Linked DNA regions of Homo sapiens: regions 2, 3, 4, 5, 6 and 7 are each linked to region 1. Evidence: fine-mapped expression QTL. A gene starts in region 1. Each other region holds a variant in brackets. All regions are shown on one strand. Distances are between the middles of the regions.

Region 1 (4,287 bases):
AATTAATGAATGAATAATAAATATAATTTTTGTATGACTAAGTTTATAATTAATTTCCATCTATATGTTCTAAGTAATTTTATTAAACAAAATCAGAGTGGAGGGAAAATAAGGGAAACAATCCCAAGATTGTCTTGAACAAAACCAGAGAGCTGAACTAGCTGATGGGGGAAATACCTATTACCTTGTCAACAATTTTGTGACTAATTAGTCCTTAAACCTGAGAGAAAAGATCCCACCCAAAGATTTGATTAAATATAAAAACTCTCCTGACTCCAAGGTTTGATCATTTTAACACTGACCTGACGAAAACAGCAATACTGTTCCTAGCAATAAATATACTCAAATTCTGATAATGATTCAACTAACACTTTTAGCATCCTTCCATATTGGATCTTACAAATGTACTATAAACTAACTCTTGGTTTTTGTCACATAAAGAAGGGGCTCTCCATTTGCTTACACCTAACTTCTACTGAACACACAGTTCTGTACAACTTGATCCCTGGAGGTGGGCCTCTGTTCTCTGACCTTTTATTTTTCTAAATTTCTATTACTTTTCTCTACCATTCATCTCAGGATGACTTTATATTGCCTTAAATTTGTTGTAATTTTTTCCATGTATACATTACGTTTTATTATTCTTGAGGACTACCCACATTAACTAAGATAGACTGATTGTATGATGAGATTTAAGTAAATTCTTACTTATCAATTATTAATAAATTTCTTCAAAGAAGAAATTGCCGAGAGTGAGGTATTTTTCAATTCTAATTAAATTATGGGAAACTAGAACAATAAGCCAGTGAATTGTGGTAGAAGCCCAAGCCTGAATTTTCAGCTGTTAAACATCCCCCTCAAAATAATAATAGCTATTTTAAAAAATCAAACTTATTGCAGCTGATATACCATAAATATCAAAAAATTGAAAACTCAACCAGAAGGCATTTCATTCTATTTTATGATAGTCATGAAGCAGTGCAAAAACATTTAAGGAACACTCTGAAGATGGAATAAATGATGTTTTAAGAAACAGAAATAAGAGGATTTACCAAGCAAACAGAATGAAATTAAGAGTAGAGTTGAAAATGGCAAGACAGCTACTATTTTTCAGTTTTATTTTATTTTTAATTGACAACTGTACATATTTATGAGGTACAAAGTGATATTTTGATACACATATACATGTGGAATGATCAAATCAGAGTAATTAGCGTACCCATTATCTCAAATTTTTATCAGTTCTTTGTGGTGAGAACATTTAATAGAAAGTAAATGTATTCTATTGGAAGCTCAAGTTACTGGTTTCCAGCTGTTACAGCTGAAAGAAAGAGGGAGGAAGGCAGGGAGTAATGGGGAAAAGGAGGGAGGGGAAAGAAAACAGAAAAGGGGGAGCGGGAACATGCAATATTCTTTCAGAGTTAAGAAACTTAATCTGACAGGTTTATAGAATTTCGTTGGAACCTAGAGCAAAATCACAATGGCTGAAGCGTCAATCAGGCCTATAAAAACATCTGTGTTTAGTTTAAATGACTAAGGGTGAAATACATCAGCTTATGGAAAATGGGGAGGGCTCCCAGTATTTGGCCAGCGTTCTAGGTGATGGATGTTGATGAGCAATTCCCTTCAACAACTGATTTACTGCCAACGGACAAAATGCTGGAAGCACATCCAAAAACTTATCTGCAATTAAAATTACAAGCAAGTGGTCACTCTGTTCACCTCCTTTACCAGAGAGGTGACCCTGCTCCCGGCAACTACCTCCACCCAAGGGCCACAGAAGAACTCCTCCTTCCTCTAACCCTCTTTCCTTGGCCTCAAACCTCACGGTAAAACCTGCCTTGCTCTGTCTCCCAATCGCTTTTGTAAAGGAAGCTGGGTGTAGAGCTCTTCTTTCTCCCTCCCTTCCTTTTTTCTTTCCTTCCTTCCTTTCTTCCTTCCTTCTTCCATGCCTTTCTGTCTTTCCAAATTCATTGCTTTGTAAGAAACATTCTCAGATCACCTCCACTCCACTAGAAATCCAACGCAGGCGAGTCGGAGTCAAGCACAGGCAGTGGGCGGGTGGCCTCAGCCGGCACCATCTGGCACCTGCGATTCATCGCCACTTTCCATTCGCCCAGAGGTCAGGGGGGCAGCAGGCAAAGGACACGCAGAGCTCGTGTGTCCCAGTTCCTCTGAAACTTTCAGCTGACCGCACCCTCCCCCGACAAACTCTTTAATCATCCATCAAGCTAGAAGAGTACAGTGACCTCTGCCTGGCCTTTGGAGTTTGCAAAAGAAGCAAGCAATAAAAAGCAAGACCAGGTTCGCCCCTTTGCTTCCTCCACCTCCCAAGAGCAGCGCGCAGCGCGGCGGTGCGGCCGGAAGGGGCCGCTGTTTGCTCAGCGCAGCCACCCCGCCGCTGCAGCCGCCGCGGCCCGCACCTCCCACGGCCGGGCTGGTCCAGCCCCGCCAAGTTCCAACAGCCCCCCCTCGAGCGAGCGCCGGGAACGAGCACCACCAGGGCTGGAGCGGACGGCTTTAGAAGAGCCTAGCTGCTGCGCGCGTCGGAGAGGCTCCTGGGAAACTCCCACGGCCCAGGGACTTTCGAAAGCAGAGCGAGGAGCCCTCGCACGCGCTAGTCTGCGAGTGAGCGCTCAGCCCGGCACCTGTTCCTCCAGCGCCGCCGCCTTCCCACCCCTCGGACCCGCGCCGCTCGCGGCGCCCGCCCGTTCCTGCGATGAATCCGGCCCTAGGCAACCAGACGGACGTGGCGGGCCTGTTCCTGGCCAACAGCAGCGAGGCGCTGGAGCGAGCCGTGCGCTGCTGCACCCAGGCGTCCGTGGTGACCGACGACGGCTTCGCGGAGGGAGGCCCGGACGAGCGTAGCCTGTACATAATGCGCGTGGTGCAGATCGCGGTCATGTGCGTGCTCTCACTCACCGTGGTCTTCGGCATCTTCTTCCTCGGCTGCAATCTGCTCATCAAGTCCGAGGGCATGATCAACTTCCTCGTGAAGGACCGGAGGCCGTCTAAGGAGGTGGAGGCGGTGGTCGTGGGGCCCTACTGACCCGCCCTCTGCCCCCGCGGCAACCGCTCCCACGCCTGCCCACTTTGCTAGCCCGGCTGTGCCCCTCACTATCAGAGACTGGGCGAAGCAAACCTGTCGGAGTCAATTATTTCTCTCGACTTCGGCCTTTCGGAAAGAAGCGACCGGTTTCTCCCTCGCCCTCTGAAAGTCCTCATGCCTGGCAGTCGGAGGAGAGCGCCCAGACTCTGAACTCAGCAGAAAGTGGCAAGAAGAGGGCGATTAGGGCGCAGAACTTTGGAAGCTGCTACTTACTTGGAATGCGGGGAGACCGACGGTGCGAAGGCCCTTCTCCACCCGCAGGTGGGCCAAGCTCTGGGGGCAGGTGGAGAGGGCGGGCAGGGGAGAGACCCAGCGGCACTGATCGCCTTGTGACCGGAAGAGTGACCTGTTAAAAGCCACGCAGCAGACTCATGGGGTCTCACAAATCCGTGTCCGGGTGCGCTCCCACTCTTCTCCTGCTCCCCCCCTGCCCTGGAGGGGAGGGGCGATAAATACCTTTGATTGTAACGTGCCGTTTTAAGAGGTTTTGTGTTTGTTTGCTTGAATACAAATGTTTGATAAGTCTTTTTCTGCCCCAGTGGCCTGTTTGCCTGCCTGAGGAGTTACAGTTTTGTCATTGTGGGAGAAGGGGTGGGGGGAGGGGGAGCCTGCGAATTTGAACGGGGTGAGTTGTTTCTTTTAGTGCATTTCCCACTGGGTCTTTTGGGAGGCGTCTAGCGTTCCTGCTGGCCCTGGGACAAAGACCCAGAATAGAACTCGTAGCTCGTGACTGCACGGTTTACGCCACAAAAGTGCTCTTGACATCCGTGACACCGTTTTGACTTTTTGTTTTTTTCTTATTTAACATTTCCTTAATAAATGCAACATTTAAGCGTTTTGTTCCTGGCCTCCTGGTGGTCATTCTGCGCTCCCCAGCAGGGGGGAACGGGGCGGCGGTGAGGAGTCTGGCTCCCGGCCAGGGCAATTAACCCTGGAGAGCTGCGATTCAACTTGTGGATCCCCTGGAGGGGCGAGGGTGGGGCCAGACGGAGAGGCCCTGGGATGACTGAGAAGGAGCCCAGCCTCAGGCACAGTAGCCGTCCTGGAGGCAGCATCCTTTGTTTCCTCTTATCGTGAATATTTTATATTTCATTTAGTCTCAGCTCTCAGGTAGGCGAGACGACAGAAGGGCCCCCGCGGGAAGATTACACTTCCGTGCCAGGCTCCGGCGGGAACAC
Region 2 (4,287 bases), 30 kb before region 1:
GTTACCCATCCACAGGTAACAGGAACCTGCTTGAATCACGCCTAATCTATAGGAACCTGCTTGGGTCATCCCTAATCTATAGCCAACCCCCGCCCCTTTTTTTTTTGCAGTGGACCCCAACTCTTCCACCACATTCCAGGACATCTAGAAATTTCTTCTTTCTCCTATCTCAACAATTTCTTCCTTTTTGCTGAGTCATTCCCAGGACCATACAAATGTACTTTAATAGCTCCTATCAAAAGGCATGAATAGATTTTTTAAGAATCCTCCTCCTCCAACTCCACATCCTCTTCCTCCTTCCACCCCTTTCTCTGCTCCCAAATAAAGGAAATCGTCTGGACAGAGTTATTCTTTTTCTCTCTGCTTCTCTCGCTCCCTCTTGTAACTCCTAGGTCAGTCTTTCATCCTTACCTCTCCAGTGAATCTGCTCTTGTCCAACAGTGTCTGCTCCATTGCGAGATACCACAGAGTGGCCCACTCTCTCCTTCTGCTTGTATTTGCTGGGTAACTCTTTCCTTCTAGAAACATTTTCTTCAGTTGAAACCTACACCACGGCTCTCCTGTCTGCTTCCTACCTCGCCAACCACAGTCTCTGTCTCTTTTGCTGATACGTCCTTATCCCTCCTATTTTAGACCACAGCTTCTCAATTCTGGCTGCACATAAGAATCACCTGGCAAGTTTTTAAACTACAACAGAGCCCAGGCCTCAACATATTAAATCAGAATCTCTGACTAATTAAAGCAGAATCGCTGAAGGTGAGTTGAAAGGCTTGGTCAATTTTGTTCATGACTCCCAGGTGATTCTAATGTGCCGCCAGGCTGATAATTCCTGGCAACGTTGGTGTGTCTGCATAAAATAGCACCTCCTTAGCCTACACTCCTTGTTACCTGTGTTGGCTTTATATACGTGTTTGTTTCCAGTCTTCTCAGATAGAATACAAGCTTCTTAAGGGCAGGGTCTCTGTCTAAGCCTGGAATGGTTCCTGGCTTATCCTAGACACTCAGTAATCACGTATTGAGTAAATGAGTCCAGCTCAAGATTCTGGCCGTAGCTTATGTGGAGTTATTGTAGTAATAAAATATCAAAGGGCCAGACAAGTCTTTTGGAAACAATACGTACCCCCAGAAACGTTTACCCTTGTCCCTTTTGTTAGGAACATCTCTCGGATTTGGGTGGAGAGATGAAATTGGGACAGACTAAAAATGATATTGCAATATTGTGGCTTAAAATAAATCATTGTGAGATTTGCATTCTTTGAGTCATGCTTAGGCTGGAACATTTTCTGCCTGCAATTAGATACTCTGTTTCTTTCCTAAATTTCCTGAGACCCTAAAGGGTCACAGCTCCTTTAAGACAAGTCCTGGTATTGCTACCAAAATATTTCTCAAATAAGTGCAATCAAACAACATAGTGCAGTGTAAAAATGAGATAAAAATATACTTAGTAGTAAAAATAAGTCTCACTGAAAACAAATTTAGGCCCTGTATCTAAAAATTTTTAATTACGAGATTTTTCCATCACCAATTAATGAAATGAAACTAGGCTTCTTGAAAAACTTTATAATCCCCTGAGGCAAACATAAAAGGCCTTCTGCTAGAGTCAGGTCTGAGTCCCTTAGGGGCCAAAGCTTTGCATGGTCTAGCCCTGGGAGAGGAAGAAAGTAGTTGTAATTAGTGACTATTATTCACTACGCCTGGCTCAACCAAGTTCACACACATACACAGAGAGTTAAATGTTGATTGCTGGAATTTGACACCTCCTATCTATATAGAAGCAATTCAATGACCATCTACAATAACACTTTTAACAAGAAGTTTCAGTTAATTTATTTACAACATTTCTTTAAACATTTCATCTAGGGTTTTTCTTTATGGTCTGTGCTTTTAAATATTCTAATTATTTATTAAAACAGTTTCAAGTTCTTAAATATAAGCAAAGGAATCACTATTGATGGCAGCGGTGGCCCGTCTGAAGCAGCCGCTGCGGGGACTCCAGCTGCAGCAGGGGAGGCTCCGCCAGGTCTGCGCACTCCGTGGAACTGGTGGGAACCAGAAACAGGTGGAAGCCCCGCCCCGTTTTCAGTTGGCAGGGCGGGAGCCCCAGCTCCCTGACGCAGCTGCAGCTGCCCAGCCATGGCTGCTGACTGAGGCA[G/T]CCCTGCACTCTCAGGGACCCTGGAAGCTCCTGTTTCCCCGCAGGCTCAAAAGTACCTGCTCCCGCTGCCTGGCCTCTCCCCACACACAGCGCCCGCTATTTCCTTCTTTCTTCCTCTGTCCTCTCTTCCTGGACGGGTAATCACGTTTCTATAACCACAAGACACTTCCCTCGGATGCATCCCCCAAACTGGGAAGGGTTTAATTTCCCCAAACCTTAAACTGCCTGCCAATCTCTTGGGGAAGGACAACTTCTTTGTCTGTTTCACCTTCGCAGGACTCCAGGGTGATAGGGCTAACGGCTCAGAGGAAGAGAACCCAGAAACTTGACATGCCGGCAAAAGGGTTAAAGTTCTTAGGAGATTTATAGGGGGGAAGATGGCAGATAGGAGTCAGGACTACCATGCAGCTCCCACTTGGGAGACAGAGCAGCCTGCGGAGACTCACATCATGAGCTTTTGCTCCAAGAACTACCGCAGCAACATACCAGGAAAGCTGAGAGAATCCATAAACCCTTTGAAGGAACTGGATCACTGCTGCAGGCTCCCTGAGATGCTAAAAAACCGTGAGTCAACTTGCTTCATCAGCGGGGAGGCTGGTAGTTGGGGCAAGTTCTCAGCCCTGGTCACCAGCTGCCTGGAAGTAGACTCAGTGTTGTTGGGGGAGTACAGTAGGGGTGAGACCAGCCTTTAGGACTGTGGGCTGCATGGGTGTAGAGTCAGATCTGTGACTGCCTGCTTTCCCCCACTTCCCTGGTGACCTGTATGACTTAGCAGAGGCAGCCATACTCCACGTGGGAACATAACTCCACCGGCCTAGGAACCAACCACACCACCATCCCCCATAGCAGCTGCAGCAAGCCCCATCCAAGGATAGTCTGAGCTCAGACATGTCTATCCCTGCTCCCACCTGGTGATCTTTTTCTATCTGCCCTAGTTGCCAAAGACAAAGGACATAATCTCTTGGGAGCTCTATGGCCCTGCCCACTGCCTGAGAAACCTGAATACATAACCAGGCGACCCTAGGGCATGTTTGCTTCCTCCCTATAAGAGCTGATGTGCTCTTGAGAGTGCCACCTTCTGGCTGGAGGCCAACCAACACAAAATCAGTACACTAAGCAAAAACACAACCAAGGACCCTCACAGAGTCCATTTCACTCCCCTGCTGCCTCCACTGGAGCAGGTGCTGGTGTCCATGGCTGAAAGATCTGAAGGCAGATCACATCACTGGACCCTTGCAGACACTCCCCAGTACGAACCCAGAGCCCAGTAGCTTCTTCCAGGTGGCCAGACCCAGAAGAGCAAAAACAAGTACCACAGTTTGGCTCTCTGGAAGCCCCATCCCTAAGGGAATGGGGAGACCATCACATCAAGGGAACACCATGTGGGACAAAATAATCTAAACGGCAGCTCTTCAGTCCCATATCTTCCCTCTGACGTAGTCCACCCAAATGAGAAGGAACTAGAATAACAATTCTGGTAATATGACAAAACAAGGTTCTTTAGCACCCCCAAAGATCACACCAGCTCACCAGCAATGAATCCAAACCAAGATGAAATCTCTGAATTGCCAGAAAAAGAATTCAGAAGGTCAATTATTAAGCTAATCAAGCAGGCACCAGAGAAAAGTGAACTTCAACTTAAAGAAATAAAAAACATCACCTGGGCATGGTGGTTCAAGCCTGTAATCCCAGCACTTTGGGAGGCCGAGGCTAGTGGATCACGAGATCAGGAGATAGAGACCATCCTGGCCAATATGGTGAGATCCCATCTCTACTAAAAATACAAAACTTAGCTGTGCATCGTGGCACGGGCCTGTAGTCCTAGCTACTTGGGAGGCTGAGGCAAGAGAATTGCTTGAACTTGGGAAGCAGAGCTTGCAGTGAACTGAGATAGCACACTGCACTCCAGCCTGGCGACAGAGTGAGACTCCATCTCCAAAAATAAAAATAAAAAAGAAGGAAAGAAAGAAGGAAAACACATGATGCAGGATACGAAATAAAAATTCTTCAGTGAAATAACGAATAAAAAACAATCACAACTTCTGGAAATCAAGAACACACTTAGAGAAATGCAAAATGCACTGGAAAGTCTCAGCAATAGAATCTAACAAGCAGAAGAAAGAACTTTAGAGCTT
Region 3 (4,287 bases), 69 kb after region 1:
AACCATCCAGCACACGAGAAAGATGTAGGCTGGGAGGCTAGGCCAGCCTCACCTTTTCAATTTTTCCTGCCTGCTTTATATTTTCTGGCAGCTGATTAGATGGTGCCGAGCAGATTAAGGGTAGGTCTGCCTTTCCTAGCCCACTGACTCAAATGTTAATCTCCTTTGGCAACACCCTCACAGACACATCAAGGATCAATACTTTGCATCTTTCAATCCAATCAAGTTGACACTCAGTATTAACCATCACAATTGGATGAATTCTTTATAGCAAAATTTTATTGGTTTTGGAGAGGCAAAAGCATTTCTACCATGCTTATGCAGAACCTGAGTTAATGTTCTAATATGCAAACGTATCACACCACCCTTCTTTCCTTCATAAGAAGCTTTCAAGGGCTACTACTATTGCTCCAGCATCAGTCAGACGGCCCAGCATGATCCAGCACCTGCTTGCCCCTCCAGTTTCATCTCATGCTACTACCCCAGTGAACTTTATACTCCAACCCACCTGAAGTGTTTCAGTTCTTTCAAAGCACATGGTCTCTTTCAGTGTCATGCATACATTCTCATGCATACATCTTCCCCCACCGCCTACTCCCGATTTTATCTGAGTCATTTCCTAAAGAAATTAGTTGCCTCTTCTATCTCTCATCAAGCCTGGGTCAGGTACCATTCCTGTGTGGTCCCACAGTACCCTGAGCTTCCCATGTCAGATTCCTAATTCACTGAAATGTATTCCAAACTCTTTGTGGGCAGGGCCACATCTCCCTATCGGATCCCCTATACTGAATCCAGTGCTGGGCATGGAACAGGTATTCAATAAGTACTTGATGAATTAATGAATGAATTTACTATATGACTGAATGTATTACTCTTCAGTTTAGGAAAAAAAAAAAATATATATATATATATATACATATATGCCATGTACAGTGGCTCACGCTTGTAATACCAGCACTTTGGGAGGCTGAAGTGGGCAAATGGCTTGAGCTCAGGAGTTTGAGACCAGCCTGGGCAACATGGCGAAACTTCATCTCTACAAAAATTAGCTGGGCCTGTTGGTGAGTGCCTGCAGTCCCAACTACTCAGGGAGGTGAGAGGATGGTTTGAGATGATTAGACAGAGTTTGCAGTGATCATGACATTGCACTCCAGCCTGGACTCTCTCTCCTCTCTCTCTCCTTTCTCTCTCTCTCTCTCTCTAAATATATATTTATATATTTGTGTGTGTGTGTGTAAATATTTTTCAAACTCTAGAATTCAGACTATCTCTAGTGCTAACACTATATAATCAATACACTATATATGGCTTATTTTTATCTCTATTTCCCTGCTCCACTCTTTTTATTCAAGCTATCTAGAATTTTAATTGAGATTATTATTACATTTTTTACATTATATCTCTACATCTTTAGAAAAACTTTTTTAACAAGAGAATTACCTTCACACTAAAAATGAGTTAATCTAGTTATTGAACTACAGGCTTTAGATATTTTGTTTCCTATGTCTTTCTCTTTCCTCCCTTCTCTGATGATTGTCTGTTGATTGTTTGAAATGATTAAATGAGTGATTTGGGCTTGGAAAACAAAATTTTTCAAAGCTCATTGCTTGTTGAAAGCTCTCTCTTGTACTCTTACTTTGAATATTACATGGTATAGAATTCTAGGTTCAAAAGCATTTCCAGCTGGGTGTGGTGGCTCATGCCTGTAATCTCAGCATTTTGGGAAGCACAGGCAGGAGGATCACTTGAGCCCAGGAGTTCTAGATAAGTCTGGGCAACATAGTGAGACTCCTTTCTCTCCCCCTACCCCACCCCCCCTAAAAAAATAGCTGAGTGTGGTGAGTGCCTGTAGTCCCAGCCACTAGGTGGGGGATGAGGTGGGAGGATCACTTGAGCCCAGGAGGTAGAGACTACAGTGAGT[T/C]GTGATATTGCCACTGCACCCCAGCCTAGGTGACAGAGTGACACCCTGTCTCAACAACAACAAAGCATTTTCATTTAGGACTTTGAAGACTTTGCCCTACTTTGTTTCCTAGTATTCTAATCTGTATATAAGGCTGACACTGGTTTGATTCTGAATTTTGTAAATAATCTTTCACTCTGTCCTAGAAACTCTTAAGATATTTTTTCTTTCTCCTTCAAGTTCACAACTTTTACCAAGATATAACCAGGTCTGGAGCATTTTTCTTGGCACATTGTATGACCTTCACATCTGAATGTGTGTGTGTGTTCAGTTCAAGAAAATGTTTATTATTTGCTTTTTCCATTTTTATTCTTAATTATACTTTAGCATTTTTGTTCTTTTTACATCAATATCCTGGGAAATTTCCTTAACTTTTTCTTTCTGATCATTAATACTACGCAGTTCTTTTTATTTCTTAGTTTAGCCTTTCTCACATTTTATTTCAGTAATTATGTGTGTAGCTTTCTGTATTCTTCTTGCTGTCTGATTACCTAATTTTCATGGCACTGATTCTTGGGATTATGAACACAGTGTCTTCCTGAATTTCTCTAAATTTACTAATTTTTAAAAATTCTCTTTTACTTTTCGTGTTTTCTTTGCTTCTGTTGTGGTTGCTTTATTAGTCTTTTTCTTTCAGACTGTTAGCTTTTTCCAGATATTTTACGATACAGGCTACCAAAATCTGTATTAGTCAGGGCTCTCTAGAGGGACAGAACTACTAGGAGATATATATATATATACACACATATGAATATATACATATACATATGAATATATACATATACATATGAATATATACATATTCATATATATATATACATACATATTCATATATATATATATGAAAGGGAGTTTATTAAGGAGAATTGACTCACATGATCACAAGGTGACGTCCCATGATAGGCTGTCTGAAAGCTGAGAAGCAAGGAAGCCAGCAGTGGTTCAGTCCGAGTCCCAACACCTCAAAAGTAGGGAAGCAGGCAATGGACAATGCAGCCTTCAATCTGTGGCCAAAAGCCCAAGGGCCCCTAGTAAACCACTAGTGTAAGTCCAAGAGCCTAAAAGCCGAAGAACTTGGAGTCTGGTGTTTGAGGGCAGGAAACATCCAGCACAGGAGAAAGATAAAGGCCAGAAGACTCAGCAAGTCTGCTCACTCCACCTTCTTCTGCCTGCTGTTTCTAGCTGCACTGGCAGCCAAGGGGATGGTGTCCACCCAGATTAAGGTTGCATCTGCCTCTGACTCACTGAGTCCACTGACTCAAATGTTAAGCTCCTTTGGCAACACCCTCACAGACACACCCAGGAACAGTACTTTGCATCCTTCAACCCAATAAAGTTAACACTCAATATTAACCATCACAATAGGCTAATTAGTTTAGCAAATCAGTATGAGTTTCCCTAGCATTTGTCTTCATCTTTTTTGCAAAAGGCCCATCCTTAGCAAAAAAAAAACAAAAACAAAAACAAAAAACAACAACAACAAAAAACACCAACTGTGGGCTCTGAGCTCTGCGAGTAAATCGGCACAATCGTGTAGAATCATTTCAGTTTTAGTGGTGGGAGCAAGCCAGTGAGCCAGGGTCCCTTTTGATTGCCAAAGTAAGAAAGTCTTTATTGAAAGTTATAGGACTATTTTTGCTATTTATTTTCTCCTTCATTCCTTCTTCCCTCCCTTACTCTCTTCCTTCCTTCTATACTTCTTCGTGGGTTTTGCTTATTTTTTCTTGTTTTATTTCCTTCAACTTGGTGGTGGTGTAGCTTGATCATATGCCGGTCATTTTCTGCAGATGTATCTCATCTTGTCAGCTCTTCTGCACAGGTGTTACTCAGTATGAAAGCAACCCCTCCACTCTTCCTCTATTGGCAACCAGAAGTCAGCTCCCTGGCCTGGAACCCTGAGATGAGCCATAGTCTCTTTCTAACCCACAGTTCATGGTCCACTCCTCTGCTTCTGTAACATTGTCACCTTCTTCTGGTAACCTATATTCTATAGTTGCTCTCTCAGCTAATTCTAACACCCACTGGGGGCTCATTAGGAGCGAAGGGAAATTTGAAGTCTCCTATCCACTCCCGCTCAGATGTAGAGCTGCTTTGTTGCACTACTCTGGGGGGTTACCATTCTCATTATTTTTTACTGTAAATCACGCATTTCGATGCTATGACACCAGCTCTACTGCTAGTGCCCCTTCCATTCTTGTGGTATGAGTAACTACAGCAAGACCCCACTTTAAATTTTAGATAAAAGTGGCACACAAGCCTACCCCTACCCCTTAATGTTTAATCTTCCTGCTATTAGCATGATGTTTATGCTGAGTCCAGAAAGACAC
Region 4 (4,287 bases), 61 kb before region 1:
TGCAAGTTTCAGTTTTCAACAAAAACCTTGATAGGGTTGTTTAGCCAGAATCCCCCATCCTTCATATCTGATCACCCTCAATAGCTAGTTGGGTTCTTCATCCTCTACCATCCCTCAAGTGATGTCTGATCACCCTGGCCTGTCTTCAGCAAGAATCCTGTTAGTTCAGTTTAATCAAAATATTCCTTACCCCTGATGTTTCCTCTTCATAATTTTCCATCTACTGATCCCCAACTTGGCCCCTTGCTATAAATTCCTAGTTGCTCAAGCTGTATTCAGAACTGAGACCCATTCTATACTTAAATCTCTTTTCTCCTATTGCAATAGTCCTGAATAAAATGTGCTTCTACTTCCGGTTTTTTTTTTGTGTGTGTGTGTGTTTGTTTGTTTGTTTGTTTGTTTTTTGAGATGGAGTTTTGCTCTTATTGCCCAGGTTGGAGTGCAATGGCATGATCTCAGCTCACTGCAACCTCCACCTCCTGGGTTCAAGTGATTCTCCTGCCTCAGCCTCCCAAGTAGCTGGGATTACAGACCTGTGCCACCACGACTGGCTAATTTTTTTGTATTTTTAGTAGAGATGGGGTTTCAACATGTTGGCCAGACTGGTCTTGAACTCCTGACATCAGGTGTTCCACCCGCCTCAGCCTCCCAAAATGCTGGGTTTACAGGGGTGAGCCACTGTACCCGGCCTTTAATTACTGTTCAGCTCTAGTATTCGTTTGCAACTTGTCAGGGCCAAGAGAAAATATCCCCTTCACCCTTTGAAGGTTCATTTAAAAATTACTGACTAGAGGCAGATGGATAGGAGAAAAGGCATAGAAATGTATTTGATCATAGTTTCATATAACACAAGAGCTTTCAGAATGAAGGCCCAAAGATACAGGGGAAATTGTCCATTTTTATGCTTATGTTCAACAAACTATGGGCAACTGTATAGAAATACGTTGAACAAAAAAGCTAATGCTAATAACTGAGTGGGGAAACCAAGCAAGCCCTGTCCAGCTAGATTCTTCCTGTTTTCTCTAAGCATGTATTCCCCTCCTTTCTGAGGTTAAGCCAGGACACCCTCTGGAATGAAGGTCTTATGGCCTACAATCAAACAAGGTAGATCAGATAATTTATTTATGACCAGTTTTTACACAGAAACGCAGGGGAGAAGGTTAGAGTAATAATTGTAGGTTTTATGACTGGCTTTGGGGAAAGGTGTTCTGGTTTCTATGACCCACACTGGAGAAGAAGGATTCTAGTTTCTATGGTGCCTTGAGAAAGAAGAGAAATGAGAGACAGGAGGGCAAGAGAAAGTCAGTCGATTAGTCCATTCTCACCCTGCTATAAAGAACTGTCTGAGACTCGGTAATTTATAAAGGAAAGAGATTTGATTGACTCACAGGTCAGCAGGATTAGGGAAGCCTCAGGAAACTTACAATCATGGCAGAAGAGGAAGCAAACACATCCTTCCTTCACATGGTGGCAGGAAGGAGAAGTGCAGAGCAAAGGAGGGAAAAGCCCCTTATACAACCATCAGATCTCATGAGAATTCACTCTCTATCATGATAACAGGGTGGGGGAACAACACCTATGATCTAATCACCTCCCACTGGGTCCCTCCCACAACACCTGGGGATTATAGGAGCTACAATTCAAGATAAGATTTGGGCAGGGACACAGCCAAACCATATCATTCCACCCCTGGCCCCTCTCAAATCTCATGTCCTCACATTTCAAAACAAAATCATGCCTTTCCAACAGTCCCCCAAAGTCTTAGCTCATACCAACATTAAGCCAAAAGTCCAAGTCCAAAGTCTCATCTGAGACAAGGCAAGTCCCTTCTGCCTATAAGCCTGTAAAATAGAAAGCAAGTTACTTACTTTCTAGATACAATGGGGGTACAGATATTGGGTAAATACACACATTCCAAATGGGAGAAATTGGTCACAACAAAAGAACCAAAGG[C/A]CTCATGCAAGTTTGAAACCCAGCGGGGCAGTCATTAAATCTTAAAGCTTCAAAATCTGCTTTGATTCCATGTCTCACATCCAGGTCACACTGTTGCAGGAGGTGGGCTCCCATGGACTTGGGCAGTTCTGCCCCTGCGGCTCAGTAGGATACAGGCCCGGGGGCTGCTTTCATTGGCTGCTGTTTAGTACCTGTGGCTGTTCCAGGTACATAGTGCAAGCTGTCAGTGGATTTACCACTCTGGGGTCTGGAGGATGGTGGCCCTCTCCTCACAGCTCTGCTAGGCAGTGCCCCAGTGGGGACTCTGTGTGGGAGCTCCAACCCCACATTTCCCCTCTTCATTGCCCTAGTAGAGGTTCTCCATGAGGACTTCACCCCTGCAGCAAACTTCTGCCTGGACATCCAGATGTTTCCATACATCCTCTGAATTCTAGGCAGAGGTTTCCAAACATCAACTCTTGTCTTCTATGCACCTGCAGGACCAATACCATATGGAAGCTGCCAAGGCTTGGGACTTGTACCCTCTGAAGCCATGGACTGAGCTGTACCTTGGCCCCTTTTAGACATGGCTGAAGTGGCCAGAATGCAGGACACCAAGTCTCTAGGCTGCACACAGCAGGGGGGCCCTGGACCAGGCCCACAGAACCGATTTATTCCTCGTAGGCCTTCAGGCCTCTGATGGGAGAGGCTGCCATAAAGGTCCCTGACATATCCTGGAGACATTTTCCACATTGTCTTGGCAATTAACATTTGGCTCCTCATTACTTGTGCACGTTTCTGCAGCTGGCTTGAATTTCTCCCCAGAAAATGGGTTTTTCTTTTCTACCATATTGTCAGGCTGCACATTTTCCAAACTTTTATGCTCGGTCACCTCTTAAATGCTTTGCTGCTTAGAAATTTCTTCTGCCTGACAATCCTAAGCCAAAAGAACAAAGCTGGAGGCATCACACTACCTGACTTCAAACTATACTACAAGGCTACAGTAACCAAAACAGCATGGTACTGGTACCAAAACAGAGATACAGATCAATGGAATAGAACAGAGCCCTCAGAAATAACGCCGCATATCTACAACTATCTGATCTTTGACAAACCTGAGAAAAACAAGCAATGGGGAAAGGATTCCCTATTTAATAAATGGTGCTGGGAAAACTGGCTAGCCATATGTAGAAAGCTGAAACTGGATCCCTTCCTTACACTTTATACAAAAATCAATTCAAGATGGATTAAAGACTTAAACGTTAGACCTAAAACCATAAACACCCTAGAAGAAAACCTAGGCATTACCATTGAGGACATAGGCATGGGCAAGGACTTCATGTCTAAAACACCAAAAGCAATAGCAACAAAAGACAAAGTTGACAAATGGGATCTAATTAAACTAAAGAGCTTCTGCACAGCAAAAGAAACTACCATCAGAGTGAACAGGCAACCTACAGAATGGGAGAAAATTTTCGCAACCTACTCATCTGACAAAGGGCTAATGTCCAGAATCTACAATGAACTCAAACAAATTTACAAGAAAAAAACAAACAACCCCATCAGAAACTGGGCAAAGGACATGAACAGACACTTCTCAAAAGAAGATATTTATGCAGCCAAAAAACACATGGAAAAATGCTCATCATCACTGGCCATCAGAGAAATGCAAATCAAAACCACAATGAGATACCATCTCACACCAGTTAGAATGGCAATCATTAAAAAGTCAGGAAACAACAGGTGCTGGAGAGGATGTGGAGAAATAGGAACACTTTTACACTGTTGGTGGGACTGTAAACTAGTTCAACCATTGTGGAAGTCAGTGTGGCGATTCCTCAGGGATCTAGAACTAGAAATACCATTTGACCCAGCCATCCCATTACTGGGTATATACCCAAAGGACTATAAATCATGCTGCTATAAAGACACATGCACACGTATGTTTATTGCGGCATTATTCACAATAGCAAAGACTTGGAACCAACCCAAATGTCCAACAATGATAGACTGGATTAAGAAAATGTGGCACATATACACCATGGAATACTATGCAGCCATAAAAAATGATGAGTTCATGTCCTTTGTAGGGACATGGATGAAATTGGAAATCATCATTCTCAGTAAACTATCGCAAGAACAAAAAACCAAACACTGCATATTCTCACTCATAGGTGGGAATTGAACAATGAGATCACATGGACACAGGAAGGGGAATATCACACTCTGGGGACTGTTGTGGGGTGGGGGGAGGGGGGAGGGATAGCATTGGGAGATATACCTAATGCTAGATGATGAGTTAGTGGGTGCAGCGCACCAGCATGGCACATGTATACATATGTAACTAACCTGCAC
Region 5 (4,287 bases), 880 kb before region 1:
CCTACAGAAAAAGAATTTGCCCACATTTACATTTCAGCATATAGACATAACCATTTCATTTCATCACACTGTTCTTTGCTTTTTTTCATATTTTAGAATGTGGTTTAATTTTCTTTCATCACCATAATGGGTCAGAGTGTGCAGAACAGTGATTGCAACAAAATTGCATTTTTAAGAAAAGGTCGTGCAATTAGCTGATGGATTGATGGAGATAACTATGACAGGCAGAATCCTCACTGGTCCACTGCAGAAATCCACAGAATAAATAATCAGAACATTTGAGCTTCCCCCCGCTCCACAAAAAAAAGTTAAAACAAATGCTATAGACATAATTCAGAATACTGTTCTGAAAAGACTGGAAGCAAGCCAAGGCTTGAGAATATCTAAGCCATACTGGGAAGGCAGAGAAGATGAAAGAGTAGTGATTCAAACTGGGGTGAGCTGGTTGGACAGGCGTACATCTGGCTTACCAAGCCTATTGGGTTTTTAAGCCAAGAAAGGTAATACAGTGCGAGAAAAAGTTAGCAAAACAAACAATGGATTCTGAAAATAACAAATCCCAGAGATCAGTAGAATCAGGTGAGAAAAAAACAAGTTTTGAATGTACTTAAGCTTAGAAAGTATTTCTGGGTTAAAGTAAATGAGAAAGCAAAACAGTGTACAATGCAACTTTAAAAGCTGTGTAAGGAATTTGGTAACTCAAAAATAAACTGACAATTTCATTTGTGATTTAAATCTGTTATAATGAAAACTCACGTGATTACTTTAATACTTTAAAGGGTTTGAAAGGTTGACCTACGCTAATTATTGAGCCATATAGTATCCTCACACTCATGAAAATGAATGTGGGGAGAAAATTTCTTCCTTAATGCAATAGCTATTTGGCCACTTGTAGGCAGTATTTTAGAGGTGATTCATGCATTGCTTAGTATAGCAGTTATGCAAAACTTAGTGCATAAAACAATGACCAGTTTTTTTAGCTCATAATTCTGTAAGTCAACAATTTGTCTGGGCTTAGCTGGGCTTTATTTTTTCTTCTTGTATATCAAGTTTTCTCTTGCATTTGGCAAGAGCTTTTGGGTTGGGTGGGGGTTGGCTAGTTTAAGATGACTTTGACTAGAAAGACTGGGATGAATGGGACCTCTCTACACATGGTCTCTCACCCACCAATAGTTTAAACTGGCTTGCTCATATGCTAAACATTCTCCGAGAGAAAAAGAGAAAGAGAGAGAGGAAAAGATGAAAGGAGAGGTGGGGGAGAGAGAGAGATGAAATATACAAATCTTTAGTCTGAGAATCAAAACCTACTCTATTTTATTCTATGTCATGTATGTCAGAAAAGCAAGTAATAAGACTAGTCCAGACTCAAGAAGCGAGAAACTAGATAGACTCACTTCTTGATGTGGGGTGGGGTGGGGGTGGGGGTAGAATTTGTGATCATTTTTTACACTCTGAAAATATGTGTTAGAATAGAAACTTCCAAGGACCATTCCAATTCTTAATGCCAATTCTTTTGTGAAAATAGGGTGCCACCAGTTCCTGTGGACACTCAGTTGTTTATCTTCATTGCCTTCTTTACTCTTTGTTCTTTACTCTTCTATGTCTGAAGTGATAGCTTAGTTAGAGCTGATTCCATGGGACTGGGCTCAGTAGTAGCAGGATCTTTTACCAAGAACTGTGGGCAAACTAAATCAAGTATGGCAGTCAAGGGCCAGTTATCTTGAGA[G/C]ATGAGTCATATTAGTTTTCCAAAATAAATAAGTCTTGGAAAGAGTGCCAGAAGCTAAACTAAGAAGTCTTAGGAAAGCCAAAACTAAAATTCAAGCATGAGAAATCACTGCCCAAGACTGAGGTGAATAATGTTTATTTAAAAAGCCTAATCATGCTTATTAGAATGACACAGGCCTAGTTTTTGACATTCAAAGGCCCAGAAATTAAGTGGATATGATTCTTTTACTAATCAGTATGGAATCGCACAATAGTAATAGGCAGCATCTGTTAAGTACTCACTATGTGACAGAAATGGGCTAAGCACTTTACACTAAATCTAAAGGCAATCCTATGAGATAGACACTATTTTTAGTTTTATATAAGAGGGATTTGAGGATTAGAGAATGCACTGTATTACAGCAAAATGATAAAGTTTACACAACTGGCAAGCAGGAGAGCTAGGATTTCAATCCAGGACAGTCTGATTCCAAATATTCAGCCTTGAATCACAAAGTCATAAGATCACTCCAAAAGGTTTTGGCTGAAAGAATTATAGACCGTCTAGTTACATTTTAGAAATGTTATAACTTAGCCAATGTTACATACTTAAACAGTATCAGAATTGGAGCTAGAGACTAATTTAGGTTACACATATACCAATCTTGAAGGAAGCGTTTATGCTATATATGCATATAAACCGTATATGGATACATCATACAAATTAATCTACAACATGCCCCTATGCTTTGTAATACCAGCAGTGTTGATCACATTCTGCTCAATAAAATCTTTATAAACATAACTTAAATATCAGACAAAAATAAGCTGTTCTTTTGGGTGTTTAATATGAAAAATATGTAGAGAAATTAGGCTATTTATGCAAGATCACTTTACTTTCTTCCCCACCACTCACTCCATGCTCCAATTGTTTTACATAACCCATCTTTCCAAATTGTGTTTTGTATTTTCATTTTTTGTTTTCAAATTTCCTAGGTTTTTAACCAACCCCATCTTCACTCCCCTTCCCCATGCTTCTAAAGTATGATTCATCTTTATAATCCCAAGTCAAATGCCTCAACCCTTTTTGGCTGGATTAATCTCATCCTTCCTTCTCTGAATTCTTGTATAGACTTAAATTGCCTGAGAGCTATCATGGTGCCACATCAAACTGAGTTCCTTGAAAGCAGGAGCTCTGCTTTCTATTTCTTTAAATTTCTAGTACACAGTATGTTACTTGGTACAACATACGTGCTCAATAAAGATATACTGAATAGTCACATTTATGACAATAGACTTATGAGACATCCATCCACACATAGGTACACGTTGCAAATTTGTATCACTCTAAAAACAGGCACAAGCCATCTGAGGAATAATTCCAGTAGCAAAACAAAAATATACTCTTATTTGGGAATGTTTTTCGCTTTTCTGCGAAAGCAGCACCCTATACTGGGATAAAACACAGTCTGTGGTACTTCCTTTGACACATTTCTCTCCCCCATAGTTTTTCCGAAACTCAAAGATCTATTTAAGAAGTTGGACAAAGAATGGCCTATTCCCTTAATATTTCAGGAACATGAATGGTTGGACTATTCTTTTTAAAGGAATGAACAAAGCCTGAATATACAGCCAGTGGACTATAAATGGATTATTGTTTTCTTTACATTGTAAGCAACAGCAGTAAACAAGGATATAAATGTTAATGATATTTCTTTAACAAAAGCTATCCATCAGCACTGCTGCACTGTGAGCAGTACAGTGATTAAACCACTGTAACATATGTATATGTGAATATTTACAAACAATCAAGGAAAAAAAGCAGTCAGTGTAATACTGTATAACTCGAAAGAACATGATTATTATTTTTTAAAAGAAAACAAGTTTATTGTCAAACATTTTTCCAGGACATTTGCTACAATGCCTTAACTACATTTTCTTAGACATAATATTGTCTTTGCTCATTAAATCATGTTGTTTTGGGAATGCTTATTTTTGAGATCAAAGGCTACATTTTCAGTAAGTCTACCTTAACAGATTGCCTTAGACAGCATTCTATTACATTAAGTTAAAGAAAATAGCCATTCTAACTTATAATTCATTTTACTGAGGAGCAGCAATCTAATTCACATTGATTTTGAGTAAACCTTTACATACCCATCTGCTCCATTTCAAGCTAGGCTTGTACAAATCAATGCATCTTCAGTATCAACATGCACTAATCAATGGGTAAGGAAAATCATTATTTACTGCTTGGTAATTGTGTTTACATTCAAATAAAATATAGTAACATGTACAAGGCCATTTTGGAGGAAGAACGAGTGGCCTATGGATCACAAGCAGATTGTCTTACATTGTATCAGATGATCTGAGAAATTTTACCAGGAAGGTAAGAGATGACCGTAAGTCTCACCTTTGCCTCGTTTTAGCTCTTAAGGTAGTTGTCCACATTTTCATGATCTTTCAATTCTAGGAAGCCTCCAGTAGGTGAATGGTAGTTCCAGGAACCATCGCTACAGGCAGCAATTCTCCCTACTGGATTATGATCAGCTCCAGAGCTGATCTGGTCTCTGCCCACCTGCT
Region 6 (4,287 bases), 37 kb after region 1:
TTTGTAAATCTTTGAATAACACATTCCTCAATCATGATAGTCAAAATACAATTGAACAGATTGAGATTTTTATCAGATTATATTCATTTATTCATTCATTCACTCACTCAAAAAATATTTCTTGAGTACATACTATATGTTTTGTTCTGTGACTAACAAAGTACAAGAACTCCATGGCGTTTATGATCTAAGAGGGAGATAAACATTAACTATCACCCTAGGTAGTTGTGTAAGCAGGTAGGCAAGTAGGTAGGTAGGTAGGTCAGCGGGTGGGTGAGTGGATGGATGGATAAATGATAGATGATAGATAGGTAGATAGATGAATAAATGGATAGATAGATGACAGATATGTAGATGGATGGATGAATGGACAGATGGACAAACATATAGGTAGGTAAATGATAGATAAAATTACTAACTGTAGTTAAGCACTGTCAAGATAAATTATAGAATTATAGGAGAGATTATTATAGAGCACAAGAAATCTAACATAATCTTGGGAGAATGGGAAGGCCCTTATGAGAAACTGACCTTTTTTTTTTGAAATGGAGTTTCTTGTCACCCAGGCTGGAGTGCAATGGCATGATCTCAGCTCACTGCAAACTCTGCCACTCGGGCTCAAGCAATTCTCCTGTCTCAGCCTCCTGAGTAGCTGGAATTACAGGAGCCCACCATCACGCCCGGCTAATTTTCATATTTTTAGTAGAGATGGGGTTTCACCATGTTGGCTAGGCTGGTCTGGAACTCCTGACCTAAGGCAATCCGTCTGCCTTGGCCTCCCAAAGTGCTGGGATTACAGGTGTGAGCCACCGCACCTGGCCTGGGAAATTGACTTTCAAGCAGAGATCCTAAGGATAGAAGATAAATAATAGAAAACACAGTGAAGAGTGCTCCGCACATAAAAAATAGTACTCAAGTCTTAAAGATGAATGGATAGTGACATATTTATGAAATTAGAGAAAGTCCAAGATGGCTGGAGAGCAAAGCATAGAGAAAAGTGAGGGAAAATGGGAAAAAGGTGAGTGATTTCTGCATTTCCAACTGAGGTACCTGGTTCTTCTCATTAGGACTGGCTAGACACTGGGTGCAGCCCACAGAGGGCAAGCTGAAGCAGGGTGGAGTGTCAACACACCCAGGAAGCACAAGGGATCTGGGAACTCCCTCCTTTAGCCAACGGAAGCTGTGAGGGACTGTCCCTTGAGAAATTGTGTAATCCGGCCCAGATACTCCACTTTTCCCACAGTGTTTGCAATCCGCAAAACAGGAGATCCCCTTGGGTGCCTATGCTACCAGGGCCCTAGGTTTCAAGCACAAAACTGGGCAGCCATTTGGACAGATACCGAGCTAGATGCAAGAGTTTTTTTTCAGACACCAGTGGTGCCTGGAACTCCAGCGAGACAAAACCGTTCACTCCCTTGGAAAGGGGGCTGAAGCCAGGGAGCCAAGTGGTCTAACTCAGTGGATCCCACCCCGCAAAGAGCCCAGCAAGCTAAGATCCACTGGCTTGAAATTCTTGCTGCAAGCACAGCAGTCTGAAGTCAACCAGGGACACTCGAGCTTGGTAAGGGGAGGGCTGTCCACCATTACTGAGGCTTGAGTAGGCGGTTTTCCCCTCACAGTGCAAACAAAGCCACTCGGGAAGTTCAAACTGGGA[G/A]GAGCCCTCTGCAGCTCAGCAAAACCGCTGTAGTCAGATTGCTGCTCTAGATTCCTCCTCTCTGGGCAGGGCATCTCTGAAAGAAAGACAGTAGCCCCAGTCAGGGGCTTATAGGTAAAACTCCCATCTCCCTGGGACAGAGCACCTGGGGGAAGGGGCAGCTGTAGGCACAGCTTCAGCAGACTTGAATGTTTGAAATTAAGGCAGTAATTTATCAACCAAGAAAAGCCCAGGACCAGATAGATTCACAGCCGAATTCTACCAGAGGTACAAAAAGAAGCTGGTACCATTCCTTCTGAAACTATTCTAAACAATAGAAAAAGAGGGACTCCTCTCTAACTCATTTTATGAGGCCAGCATCATCCTGATACCAAAAACTGGCAGAGACACAACAAAAAAAGAAAATTTCAGGCAAATATCCCTGATGTACATCGATGCAAAAATCCTCAATAAAACACTGGCAAACCAAATCTAGCAGCACATCAAAAACTTATCCACCATGATCAAGTCGGCTTCATCCTTGGGATGCAAGCCTGGCTCAATATACACAAATCAATAAACATAATCCATTACATAAACAGAACCAATGACAAAAACCACATGATTATCTCAATAGATGCAGAAAAGGCCTTCAATAAAATTCAAATCCCCATCATGCTAAGAACTCTCAATAAACTAGGTATTGATGGACTGTATCTCAAAATAATAAGAGCTATTTATGACAAACCCACAGCCAATATCATACTGATTGGGCAAAAGCTGGAAGCATTCCCTTTGAAAACTGGCACAAGACAAGATGCCTTCTCTCACCACTTCTATTCAACATAGTATTGGAGGTTCTGACCAGGGCAACCAGGAAAGAGAAAGAAATAAAGGGTATTCAAATGGGAAGAGAGGAAGTCAAATTGTCTCCATCTGCAGATGACAAGATTGCATATTTAGGAAACCCCATTGTCTCAGCTCCAAATCTACTTAAGCTGATAAGCAACTTCAGCAAAGTCTCAGGATACAAAATCAATGTGCAAAAATCACAAGCATTCCTATATACCAATAATAGACAAGCAGAGAGTCAAGTCATGAGTGAACTCCCATTCACAATTGCTACAAAGAGAATAAAATACCTAGGAATACTACTTAAAGGGATGTGAAGGACCTCTTCAAGGAGAACTGCAAACCATTGCTCAAGGAAATAAGAGAGGACACAAACAAATGGAAAAATATTCCATGCTCATGAATAGGAAGAATCATTATGGTGAAAATGGCCATACTGCCCAAAGTAATTTATGGATTCAATGCTATCCCCATCAAGCTACAATTGACTTTCCTCACTGAATTAGAAAACACTACTTTAAATTTCATATGGAGCCAAATAACAGTGTGTATAGCCAAGACAATAGTAAGTAAAAAGAACAAAGCTGGAGGCATCAGGCTACCTGACTTCAAACTATACTACAAGGCTACAGTAACCAACACAGCATGGTACTGGTACCAAAACAGATATATAGACCAATGGAACATAATAGAGGTCTCAGTAATAATGCCACACATATACAACCATCTGTTTTTTGACAAACCTGATACAAACAAGCAATGAGGAGAGGATTTCCTATTTAATAAATGTCATTGGGAAAACTGGCCAGCCATATGCAGAAATCTGAAACCGGACCCCTTCCTTACACCTCATACAAAAATTAACTTAAGATAGATTAAAGACTTCAATGCAAAACCTAAAACCATAAAAACCCTAGAAAAGAACCTAGGCAATACCATTCCAGACATGGCCATGGACAAAGACTTCATGACTAAAACACCAAAAGCAATGGCAACAAAAGCCAATATTGACAAATGGGATCTAATTAAACTAAAGAGCTTCTGCACAGCAAAAGAAACTATCATCAGAGTGAAGAGGTAACCTACAGAATCGGAAAATTTTTTGCATTCTATACATCTGACAAAGGGCTAGTATCCAGAAGATACAAAAAACTTAAATTCAAAAGAAAAAAAACAAACAATACCAACAAAAAGTGGGCAAAGGATATGAACAGACACTTGTCAAAAGAAGACATTTATGAGGCCAACAGACATATGAAAAAAAGCATATCATCACTGGTCATTAGATAACTGCAAATCAAAACCACAATGAGATACCATCTCATGCCAGATAGAATGGCGATCATTAAAAAGTTAGGAAAAAACAGATGCTGGAGAGGATGTGGAGAAATAGGAACACTTCTACACTGTTGGTGGGAGTGTGGATTAGTTCAACCATTGTGGAAAACAGTGTGGTGATTCCTCAAGGATCTAGAACCAGAAATACCATTTGACCCAGCAATCCCATTACTGGGTATATACTCAAAGGATTATAAATCATTCAACTATAAAGACACATGCACACATATGTTTATTGCAACACTGTTCACAACAGCAAAGACTTCAAACCAACCCAAATGCCCACCAATGATAGACTGGATAAAGAAAATGTGGCACATATACACGACGGAATACTATGCAGCCATGAAAAAGGATGAGTTCATGTCCTTTGCAGGGACATGGATGAAGCTGGAAATCATCATTCTCAGCAAACTAACACAGGAACAGAAAACAAAACAATGCATGTTCTCACTCATAAGTGG
Region 7 (4,287 bases), 56 kb after region 1:
TTACCTAGGTTGTTTTCAACTCTTAGGCTATTTCCATGTGTTTGCTTTTACAAACAGTGCTGAAATTAGCACACCTTTCTATGTTTTCTTGTGCACATATGCAGGAGTTTATGAAAGACTTCTGGAAATGCAGCTACTAGTTTTATTATGTATGACAAGTTCTTCCAAACTACTCTACCAAATTTCTGTTCAAATATCTCTACCAACTTATGCTACCACAGATAATAGGAGACCTGGTTTCCCAACACTTGGATTTATCAGACATTATTTTTGCCAATCTGATGGATATAAAATGTTACTTTATTGCAGTTTTAGTTTGTATATCCTTAATGGAATATAACATTCTTTCTAATGTTAATTTGCAGCTTATGCTTTCTTCTATCAATTATCTTTTGCTAAACATTTTCAATAACTAGCTTCTCTTTTTCTTGTTTGGAAGAAATTATTTGCATATTCCATACACTAATGAGTTTTGGTTTTCTGAACTGCAAATATCTTCTATATATCCAGATTGATTTTTCATCCTTTTCAGGGTAATTTGCTTAAGAAATATAGGCACAGCAAAATTTTTTAAATATTATCTTTTTTTCTCCTAAACATCTAGTTTTGCTTTTCATTTCATGCCTCTAATGCAATTAGAAAAATGTGTGTTTTATATAAAGTAAGGATATATTTGATCTTAGTTATTTCTGTATGTTTAGCCAATTGACCCAGAATCATTTACTGAACAGATCAAGCCATGTATATGTGGGTAGAACCCACATATACATGGGTAGGACCCACATATACATGGCTCGATCTGTTCAGTAAATGGATTTTTCTATCTATTACTTTTTTTCAGTTAAATTTTTATTTACTATAGTTTCATAATATATTTTGAATGACTAGACCATTATCATTTTTGTTTTTTGAGAAGTCTCAACTGTTTTAGGCACTTTATAGTCTAACATAAGTTTTAAGATGAGTTTATCATGCTTCATAAAAATGATAAAATCTTGGGGTTTTTTTTGAAAGTATAGATAAATAGGAGGAAGAACTCATATATTTGTTATAGTAAGTCTTATGTGTAAGTAATGTATCTCTACATTTAATTAGGTCTTTTATAACTTTCAATAAAGGTTTATGACTTTCTCATTAAAGTCTTGCCTCTGTGAAGTTACTTCTATTTCTAGTACTCTCGTTGCTTCTGTAATTGCTATATTTTGAAATTATATTTTTGTTTGCTGTTTGTATATATGAATTTAATTTTTAAATAACCATTCTCTGTAACTTCTCTTGGACTTTCATATACATAATCATAATCTTTGCAAATGATGACAGTTTTATATTTTTCTAATCCTTGCAAATTTATTTTGCATACCTTCTCCATTTAGCAGGAACTCCACACAATGATGAATAGAAGAAGGCATTGAGGCCTTGTTCTCGATTTAAAGGCATGTTTTTAACATTTTATTACAAAGTATCTTGGTTAAAGTAATATTTGGTAGCTAACTTTTTTTCATATTAAATAGGGTCCCTTACTCCTATTTGTTAAGAGTTTATATTATAAAGGAGTCCTGAGTTTATTGAATGATTTTCCTGCATGTATTGAAATAATCATATGTTTTAAAAATTGTTAATTTCTTAGTGATAAATTACATGTTAATTTATCACGTTTTAACATTGTTATGCTTGCATTCTTAAGAAAAAAATTCATCATTCTTTGTCATGATTTAAATGTGCATGTTTTTCTTTGTTATATTTGGTAATATTTAAGCTATTATTTTTATATCAATTTTTATAAAAGATAATGATCTGAAATTTTTTCACTAACATCCCTGACAGATTTTATCAAAGTATAGTTTACCAAAATATAAAATTGTTGAGGAGCTGTCTTACTTTTTCTTTTACTTTAGAACAGTGTGAATAAAATAGATACTATCAAACCCTTGTTTA[T/C]TGAAATTATCTTGTAAATATATTTAAAATACATGTTTTTTTCTTGTTTCAGTCATTGTTGGTTTTGCTGTTATTGTCGTTTTTGTCGTTGTGTTTTCCACCAATGCTTAAATTGTTGACTACTGATTTAATTTCATTTATTTTAATAGGATTACTCAGACTTTTATTTATTCTTGAATCTATTCTGTAAAGTGTATTTTTTTCTTAAAAAATATATTTTCAAAATAATTGGCAAAATGTTATTTTATGATTGTGTGGTCTAGTTTTCATTAAAGCCTCTCTCTCTTATTAATCTGCCAGTGATTTGTCTATTGTATTAGTTTATTTAAAAGAATTAACTTTGAGCACTTTTTACTCTACTGTTTCTGTATTTTTTTATTGTGATAAGAGCACTTAGCCTAAGATTTACTCTCATGACAAATTTTTAAGTGGACAATGCAGTATTGTTAAGTACAATTGTACAGCAGTCCTCTAGAAGTTACTCATCTTTTGTAAATAAACCATGTACCCCTTGAACTGATGTCTCCATTTCCTCTTCCCTCCAGCCCCTGATGGGATAGCTATTGGTTATTTTCCATTTAAAAATCTTCTATTCTCATCTTTACGTTTTTCCTTCTTTCTACTTTCTTTGGATGACTTCATTATTCTTTTTCTGCCTGTGTAAACTGGAAGTTGTGCTGATTTTTAGTTTTTCTTCTTTCCTAATATACGCAATTAAGGCTTTTGCCTTTTAATTGTGGTTTTAGCCAAATCCCACACATTTTGATTTACAGCATTTGCATTATCATTCAGATAGAAATATTTTCGAATTTCCATTATCATTTCTTCTTAAAGTGTTTCATGAGCTATTTATGCCTTTTTTTTTAAAAAACAATTTCCAAATACAATGTGTTGCCTATTTGACTCTTAACATGTCAGGGATGGTAACAGAGACCCAGTATCTTCTGACTTTTGCTTTTCTAACCTGTAGCCACTACGTGTGAGTGCATCTTCATCCACCTTGGCGAGGCTGATGTCTGGATTGGCAATGCTGCCGGGAGCTCTACTACCTGGAACAAAGCATCCAGCACGATAGCCCAATGCCAAGTGACAAGACCACTGGGTAAGGAGATAATTGATTCTACGCCTCTTCAGTGAGCAGGCAAGTTTGTGTCCAGGGCAGTGTTTATAAACCTGGAACCCATAGTCACTGATGAAGTTTGCACTGGCACCTACCACCAGCTCTTCCACCCTGAGCAGCTCATCACAGACAAGGAAGACGCTGCCCATAACTATGCCTGGGGGCATCACGACATTGGCAAGATCATTGGCCTTTGGACCAAATTCGCAAGCTGGTTCACCAGTGCACAGGTCTTCAGGGCTTCTCGGTTTTCCACAGCTTTGGTGGAGAAACTGGTTCTGGGTTCACTTCTCTGTTGATTATGCCACAAAGTCTAAACTGAAGTTCTCCATTTACCTAGCCCTGCAGGTTTCCACAGCTGCGGTTGAGCTCTACAACTCCATTCCACCACCAGTACCACCTTGCAGCACTTTGATTGTGCCTTCATAGTAGACAATGAGGCCATCTATGGCATCTGTTGTAGAAACCCCAATACTGAGCACCCAAACTACCCTAATCTTTAACTGCTTTCTTAGCCAGATTGTGTTCTCCATCACTGCTTCTCTCAGATTTCATGGAGTCTGACAGAATTCCAGACCGACCTGGTACCCTCTTCCTGCATCCTCTTCTCTTTGGTCACATATGCCCTGTCATCTCTGCTGGGTAAGACTACCATGCATAGCAGAGGTCACCAGTGCTCACTTTGAGCCAGGCAACCAGATGGTGAAATGTGACTCTCACTATGGTAAATACATGGCTTACTGCCTATTACACCGTGGTAATGTGGTTCCCAAATATGTCAATACTTACTGCTATTCCACTAACAAGACCAAATGCACCATCCAGTTTGTGGATTGGTGTTTCACTAGCCTCAAAGTTGGCATTAATTGCCAGCTTCCCACTGTGGTACCTGCTGGAAATCTGGCCAACATAAAGAGAGCTGCGTGCATGCTGAGCAACACCATAGCCATTGCTGAGGCCTGGGTTTGCCTGGGCCACAAGTCTGACTTGAGTTATGCCAACTGTTCCTTTGTTCACTGGGAAATGGGTGAGGAGATGGGAGAAGAAGCATTTTCTGAGGCCTGTGAGGACATGGCTGCCCTTGAAAAAGATTATGAGGAGGTTGGTGTGGATTCTGTTGAAGAAAAAGAAGGGGAACACTAATTTTCCATTCCTTTCAGCCCTGCAGCATGTCATACTTCCAGAATTTCAGCTTTGACATTAGCTGACAGGCATTAAATCTTTCCAGTTAG

Which allele goes with the higher level. Alleles are on the strand shown, and positions count from the first base shown. SD is a standard deviation of normalised expression in the study named. Not every link is listed here.
For the expression in tibial artery of the gene that starts at base 2,523 in region 1, G is the low allele of the variant in region 5 and C is the other (moderate effect, 0.54 SD a copy in GTEx).

Evidence for each region. PIP is the estimated chance that this variant, and not a neighbour inherited with it, causes the effect.
Region 2: its variant is fine-mapped to the expression of RPRM in whole blood (TOPMed, PIP 0.99).
Region 3: its variant is fine-mapped to the expression of RPRM in whole blood (INTERVAL, PIP above 0.99).
Region 4: its variant is fine-mapped to the expression of RPRM in whole blood (TOPMed, PIP above 0.99).
Region 5: its variant is fine-mapped to the expression of RPRM in tibial artery (GTEx, PIP 0.98).
Region 6: its variant is fine-mapped to the expression of RPRM in whole blood (INTERVAL, PIP 0.99).
Region 7: its variant is fine-mapped to the expression of RPRM in whole blood (INTERVAL, PIP above 0.99).

Annotation. Positions count from the first base shown.
Region 1 is chr2:153,476,998-153,481,284 of GRCh38, reverse strand. It overlaps RPRM (reprimo, TP53 dependent G2 arrest mediator homolog), which reads left to right and starts at 2,523. Exons shown (of 1, transcript NM_019845.3): 1 at 2,523-3,947. The coding sequence starts at 2,720. The coding sequence ends at 3,049. It also overlaps a transcript of GALNT13 not described here. RefSeq lists a silencer at 2,289-2,488 and enhancers at 2,845-3,348, 3,349-3,852, 3,853-4,287.
Region 2 is chr2:153,507,102-153,511,388 of GRCh38, reverse strand. It overlaps a transcript of GALNT13 not described here. Among named protein-coding and RNA genes, the nearest start is that of RPRM, 30 kb to the right of the region's middle. RefSeq lists an enhancer at 2,077-2,579. The variant G/T (reference allele first, on the strand shown) is at 2,153.
Region 3 is chr2:153,407,790-153,412,076 of GRCh38, reverse strand. It overlaps a transcript of GALNT13 not described here. Among named protein-coding and RNA genes, the nearest start is that of RPRM, 69 kb to the left of the region's middle. The variant T/C (reference allele first, on the strand shown) is at 1,922.
Region 4 is chr2:153,538,439-153,542,725 of GRCh38, reverse strand. It overlaps a transcript of GALNT13 not described here. Among named protein-coding and RNA genes, the nearest start is that of RPRM, 62 kb to the right of the region's middle. The variant C/A (reference allele first, on the strand shown) is at 1,954.
Region 5 is chr2:154,359,376-154,363,662 of GRCh38, reverse strand. The region is part of intron 9 of GALNT13 (polypeptide N-acetylgalactosaminyltransferase 13); the gene reads right to left. Among named protein-coding and RNA genes, the nearest start is that of GALNT13-AS1, 96 kb to the left of the region's middle. The variant G/C (reference allele first, on the strand shown) is at 1,727.
Region 6 is chr2:153,440,175-153,444,461 of GRCh38, reverse strand. It overlaps a transcript of GALNT13 not described here. Among named protein-coding and RNA genes, the nearest start is that of RPRM, 36 kb to the left of the region's middle. The variant G/A (reference allele first, on the strand shown) is at 1,655.
Region 7 is chr2:153,420,582-153,424,868 of GRCh38, reverse strand. It overlaps a transcript of GALNT13 not described here and the pseudogene TUBAP13. Among named protein-coding and RNA genes, the nearest start is that of RPRM, 56 kb to the left of the region's middle. The variant T/C (reference allele first, on the strand shown) is at 1,936.